2 separate regions of the Homo sapiens genome follow, and region 1 is linked to region 2. Evidence: fine-mapped expression QTL. A gene starts in region 2. The other region holds a variant in brackets. All regions are shown on one strand. Distances are between the middles of the regions.

The links. PIP is the estimated chance that this variant, and not a neighbour inherited with it, causes the effect.
Region 1: its variant is the best candidate, but not a certain one, in a credible set for the expression of OR2L13 in prefrontal cortex (BrainSeq, PIP 0.88).

The regions. Positions count from the first base shown.
Region 1 is chr1:247,933,408-247,936,334 of GRCh38, reverse strand. OR2AJ1 (olfactory receptor family 2 subfamily AJ member 1) reads right to left here. Exons shown (of 2, transcript NM_001355235.2): 2 at 996-2,588. The coding sequence starts at 2,566. The coding sequence ends at 1,580. It also overlaps the pseudogene CLK3P2. Among named protein-coding and RNA genes, the nearest start is that of OR2AJ1, 10 kb to the right of the region's middle. The variant T/C (reference allele first, on the strand shown) is at 1,182.
Region 2 is chr1:248,093,498-248,096,424 of GRCh38, reverse strand. It overlaps OR2L13 (olfactory receptor family 2 subfamily L member 13), which reads right to left and starts at 1,241. Exons shown (of 3, transcript NM_001395936.1): 1 at 1,171-1,241. It overlaps LOC105373275 (a long non-coding RNA gene), which reads left to right and starts at 883. Exons shown (of 4, transcript XR_949369.3): 1 at 883-1,021.

The DNA of each region.
Region 1 (2,927 bases), 160 kb after region 2:
CGCCTGGTGATGTTGAAGACCCTACGGCTCATCCCATTACGCGTGATCTCCTGTACCAAGAAGCAGAAATATTTCTACAAATGGGGCCTAGTTTGGGATGAGAACAGCTCTGACAGCCCATATGTGAAGAACTGCAAACGTCTGAAGAGTGACATGCTCCAAGACTCTCTGGAGCACGTGCAGCTGTTTGACCTGATGCGGAGGGTGGTAAAATTGGACGCTGCCCAGCACATCACTCTGGCTGAGACTCTTCTGCACCCCGTCTTTGCTGGCCTGGCAACCTCAGTCGTGGTCCTTCCACACAAGCCACAACCCAAGCAGATGACAGACGCAGGACACTGCATGAGGAGAGCGGAACTGGGCTGCCCAATCCCCATTCTCCAGCCCCTACCACCAGGTCCCAGGACCAGAACCACACAATGAGCAGTGCAATGTGAAGGAAGGCAGGAGCCTGCGGGGGAGCAGACTTGGTGCCCAGCTGCCAGAAGGCAGATTTGACTCAAGCTGTTCATACGTGTTTTTTGTTTTTGTTTTTGTTTTGTTTTTTGTTTGTTTTTTTGAGATGGAGTCTAGCTCTGTGGCCCAGGCTGGAGTGCGGTGGCGCCATCTTGGCTCACTGCAAGCTCCGCCTCCCGGGTTCCCGCCATTCTCCTGCCTCAGCCTCCCGAGTAGCTGGGACTACAGGCGCCCGCCACCACGCCCGGCTAATTTTTTTGTATTTTTAGTAGAGACGGGGTTTCACCGTGTTAGTCAGGATGGTCTCGATCTGCTGACCTCGTGATCCGCCCACCTAGGCCTCCGAAAGTGTTGGGATTACAGGCGTGATCCACCGCGCCTGGCCCATACATTTTAAACTTACAAAGTGTGTCTTAGTGTTTGTAAAAAAAAAAAAAAAAAAAAGGAAAAAAATTAAATGAATTCTCAATAGAAATATTTATTATCTTCTTTGAAATAACTATTAGGATAAATTGCTAGAAGAGTTTGTAAAACATCATCCTGTATGTATAAATGAAATAAGGCAATTTTTATGATATTCCTATCTAATATTGTATAGTTGCTTCTAGCATAGGATGAGTAATTCAATTTTAACACAACTTATATCTGTATATATGTGTGTACATATATATGTGTGTGTGCATATATATGTGTATCTGTAAAATTTTACTAAATAAAGGTGTTGA[T/C]AAACCAGGCAAAGAATAATGATTTCATATGGAATTTGTGAATTTTTGATAAGTGATTGTTAGCAATATAATTTAACAAAGTTTTATAAAAATAAACATGGATTTGTCTTTTATACAATGGATGTGTGACTGTATTTTTAGGGATATTCTCATAAGTCTTACAATTTTGGTGTTAGGGAATAGGACGCCTTGGGTAACTTCTACTTCCTGTAACTGTTGCATGATTATAATTGGTACCACAGAAGGAACACTACATTTTTAGAGGTACGTGTTTACAACACAAACACATATTATTGTTTATTATTAACAATGTTTCTGAAATATTCACTTCTTATATGTGGTAAGATAGAAGCTTTGATTTCTTTCTAGGAAACCTCTCATGAGTATCCTTCAGGCATTTAACATAGAAATAGACAGAACACACATTCAGGAATTTTCCTATTCATTTTTTTGTGCAGAAAGTTACTTTTGAGCATATTTTTCATCACCGCCAGAACATCTTTATTCCTAAAGCTGTAGATGAAAGGGTTGAGTGTGGGTGTGAGGATCGTATAGAATATTGCCAGGAACTTATCCTGGCCTGGAGTGTGGTATGATTTAGGTCTCATATATGTAAAAATAAATGGCCCATAGTACATCGTGACCACAATCATGTGGAAGGAACAAGTGGAAAATGACTTTTTCCTTGCCTCTGATGATTTCATCTGGAGGACAGTAAGAATAATTTGGCCATAAGAAGCAGAGATCAAGGAGAAAGGGATCAGCAGGAAGATCACAGCACTTACACAAACCCCTCGTTCATAGCGTGTTGTGTCTGCACAGGACAACTTCAACATGGCAGGGACTTCACAGAAGAAGTGATCAATTGCCCTAGAGCCACAGAAGGGAAACTGCAGTGCATAAGCTGTGTGGACTGTGGAGTTGAAAACCCCAATGAGCCAGGAGCCTCCAGCCATGAGAGCGCTGGCATACTCCTTCATAAGAATCGGATAGCGCAGCGGGTGACAGATAGCCACATAGCGATCACAGGACATTGCAGCCAGGAGAAGGCACTCACCACCCAGGAGGGTGAGGGACAGAAATACCTGGAACCCACAACCTGCAAATGAAATAGTTCTGCTGCCTGACAGAAAGTTAGTGACCATTTTGGGAACGATGTTGGAAACATGCAAGATATCCATTAAGGAGAGATGGCTGAGCAGAAAATACATTGGAGTGTGGAGTCGGGAGTCACTGCGAATGAGGAGGATCATGAGCGTATTTTCTGTTACACTCATAATGAAAATGACAAATAAAACTAAGAAGAAGACCACACTTGTTGGGGAAGAAGAGAACAATCCCAAAAGTATGAAATCACTGCTGAAAGTGTGATTCTGATGGCCCATCATGAATTCTCTATTTTTTAACCTAAAAAGAAATAATGAATTAATAATAAAGAAAAAATATTAGTGTAAATCTTAATCTAACAATAATATACCTGCATAATAAAATGAGAGTTAGTGATGCATGTTTTGTAATCAACATCAAAATACTCTTAGCCAGTTTTTGGAGTGGGCATGTTTTACAAGCTGGGCATTTCTTTCTTCAAATAATCGATGATATTCAGTATATTGAGTGGGCCCTTGGCTCCATCTTGAGTCTCATAATCTTAATTAATTCCACATAATTTACTCAAATCTACTCTTTTCTCAAATGTCACTTTCCCAAGGAGGCCTATCCTTGCACACCCTTTAAAAAATTGTAGGG
Region 2 (2,927 bases):
TACATTTTTAGTTCACTCTTGGTTTTCATTTTTTTTTTTTTTGAGACAGAGTCTCACTGTGTCGCCCAGGCTGGAGTGCAGTGGCCTGATCTTGGCTCACTGCAAGCTCCGCCTCCCGGGTTCACGCCCTTCTCCTGCCTCAGCCTCCCCAGTAGCTGGGACTACAGGCGCCCACCACCACGCCCGGCTAATTTTTATTTTTGTATTTTCAGTAGAGACCGGGTTTCACTGTGTTAGCCAGGATGGTCTCGATCTCCTGACCTCGTGATCTGCCCACCTCGGCCTCCCAAAGTGCTGGGATTACAGGCATGAGCCACCTGGGTGCCCAGCCTTCTTTTTCAATTTGTTATGGAACTGTCTATTCCCTGTGCAGCAGAGAGTTTCCTGATGATAGGAAAACATTTCCAAAAAAGCTTTCTAGGATAAAGCCGACCCAAATCAACTCAATTCAGTTATATTACTATGACTCACTTTGCCCGAAGTTCTTCAGTTTATATAGTGGTATAAAAAGCAGTTTTATGGCCAGGCGCAGTGGCTCAGGTCTGTAAGCCCAGCACTTTGGGAGGCCAAGGCGGGCGGATCACGAGGTCAGGAGTTCGGGACCAGCCTGACCAATATGGTGACACCCCATCTCTACTAAAAACACAAAAATTAGCCAGGCGTGGTGGCATGCGCCTGTGATCCCATCCACTCGGGAGGCTGAGGCAGAAGAATCACTTGAACCTGGGAGGCAGAAGTTGCAGTGAGCTGAGATCGTGACCCTGCACTCCAGCCTGGGTGACATAGTGAGACTCCATCTCAAAAAAAAAAAAAAAAAGCAGCAGCTTTACAGTGACATCATAATCTGCAAACATTCCATATAATTATTTAAAACATGTAAGCATCAAACTATGTTCTGATAGTATATCAGGCTATCAATAACATTATATCACTGATCAATAGGCTCTGCATTAAACCAAAACTCTTTCTGAAGTGAGAATCTCTTCTTTATCTGCCAAAATTCATGAGGAAGAAACACCAGGTAACACTTTATAATATTCATTCCTTACAGCTCCCACAGCTAGTCATTGTCTTTATGGTGAAATCAGAAAACAACTTCACCAGCTCTTGTGAAATATTATCCTGTTTGCATATGCAGTGTTTAGATAAAGTCTCTTCCTTTCCTCTTACCTTGTTTCAGTGAGAACAGAATAAGGCATTTTACACTGAAGTCTCTCAGGTTCCACCATTGGAAGACAGAAGGATGAATGGCTATATTTTACACACAGAACCTTAAGTCACCAACCCTTAGATATTCCTCTTTCTCCTCTAATTGATCTCCAGTGTCCAAGTCCACGGGGGCCAAAACCTTGGTCACTTCACTTGACTTTGCTGATTTGGGGATGAACTCAAATTCTGAACTTAAAGCAAATCAACCAACCCAATCAACTTTGCTGCATTCAGCTGCTACCCAGAATCAGACTAAAGAGGGGTGTATTTAATATTCCAGTACATGATTTCAGAGCTATAGAAGATGTTAAATTATGTTTATGGAAATTCTGTCATCATGTAAGTTAGAGAATTCCGGATTAAAAAAGTGCAGGAACCACTTACAAGTACTCGACTCAGTAATAGCAGAACTAGTCCCAAGGATAGTTTCCTGTCCACTCTTTAGTGAGTTTCCAGGGGGAATGATTGATGATTGTGACTAAATTAAATTATACTAGGATAAAACACTTCCTTCTACTTGTTAGGTGGGGGTAGATAATTGATACATGACAATATATATCCATTTAGCTATTCTACTAAAGTGAAAGCTGACTCTTAGAGACAATGTGATAAAATGAGCATTTAGAGTCAGAGAGAATACTCTAGTCTGACAGCTATGCCACTAATTAGGAAGCTGAGTTGGGAAAATTACTTAAGATTTCAGCCTGTTACTAATCTTTACAACTGGACTAATTTGAGGGACATTCTAATAATTAAATAGAATGATGTATGCCAAATGTTTACATAGTGTCTGTTGCAGAGGAAGGGCTCAATCAACTGTAGCATCTCTTAACCTCTTTAATCCATACATTGGTTAACTAGAAAAGAACACTTTATTTGGGGTTATATTGTTCTTTTTTTATCTTTGAAGGCACTAACTGCTATATTTTATGTCAGAAATTAGAAATAATGCTATAAAATTAATATCCATGTTCTTTGTTTTTTTCCTTTAATTTTTTAGAATTATTATGATTATCTAATGGTTGCATATATTCATGAGGTACATGTGATGTTTCAATACAGGCATTCAATGTGTAATGAGCAAATAAGGGTATTTGGGGTACCTATTACCTCAAGCATTTATTAATTTTTTCTGTTAGAAATGTTCCAATTCCACTTTTAGTTATTTTGAAATATACAATAAATTATTGTTAACTATAGTCATCCTGTTGTGCTACTACATTCTAAGTCTTATTCATCCTAACTGTATTTTTGAGCCCATTAATCATCTCCAGTTTATTCCCCACTCTACTCTACTCTGCCGAGCCTCTGGTAACAGTCATTCTACTATATTTATTATTTTTTAATTTTAGCTCCCACATATGAGCAAGAATGCTCAAAGTTTGTCTTTCTGTGCCTGGCTTATTTCATGTAATATAATGGATAATGAAAATTTACTAGATACATAGAACACTATTCAACCATAAAAAAAAATAAGAGTGAATTCCTTTCATTTGCAACAACATGGATGGAACCGGAACTAAAGTAATGCTGGATTCTTGAATTATCTTGGCACCCTTTGTCCTAGGAGATGATGAGATGAGACTCAATAAATACTGGATGCAAATACGATGAAGTACGAAACTGGACAAAGCCATTCTAGTGCTTTAAATAAGAAGAGTGGACCAGTTATGATCACATACAGATTTTTTATTGCTCTTGTTAGTCTTTGGTAACTT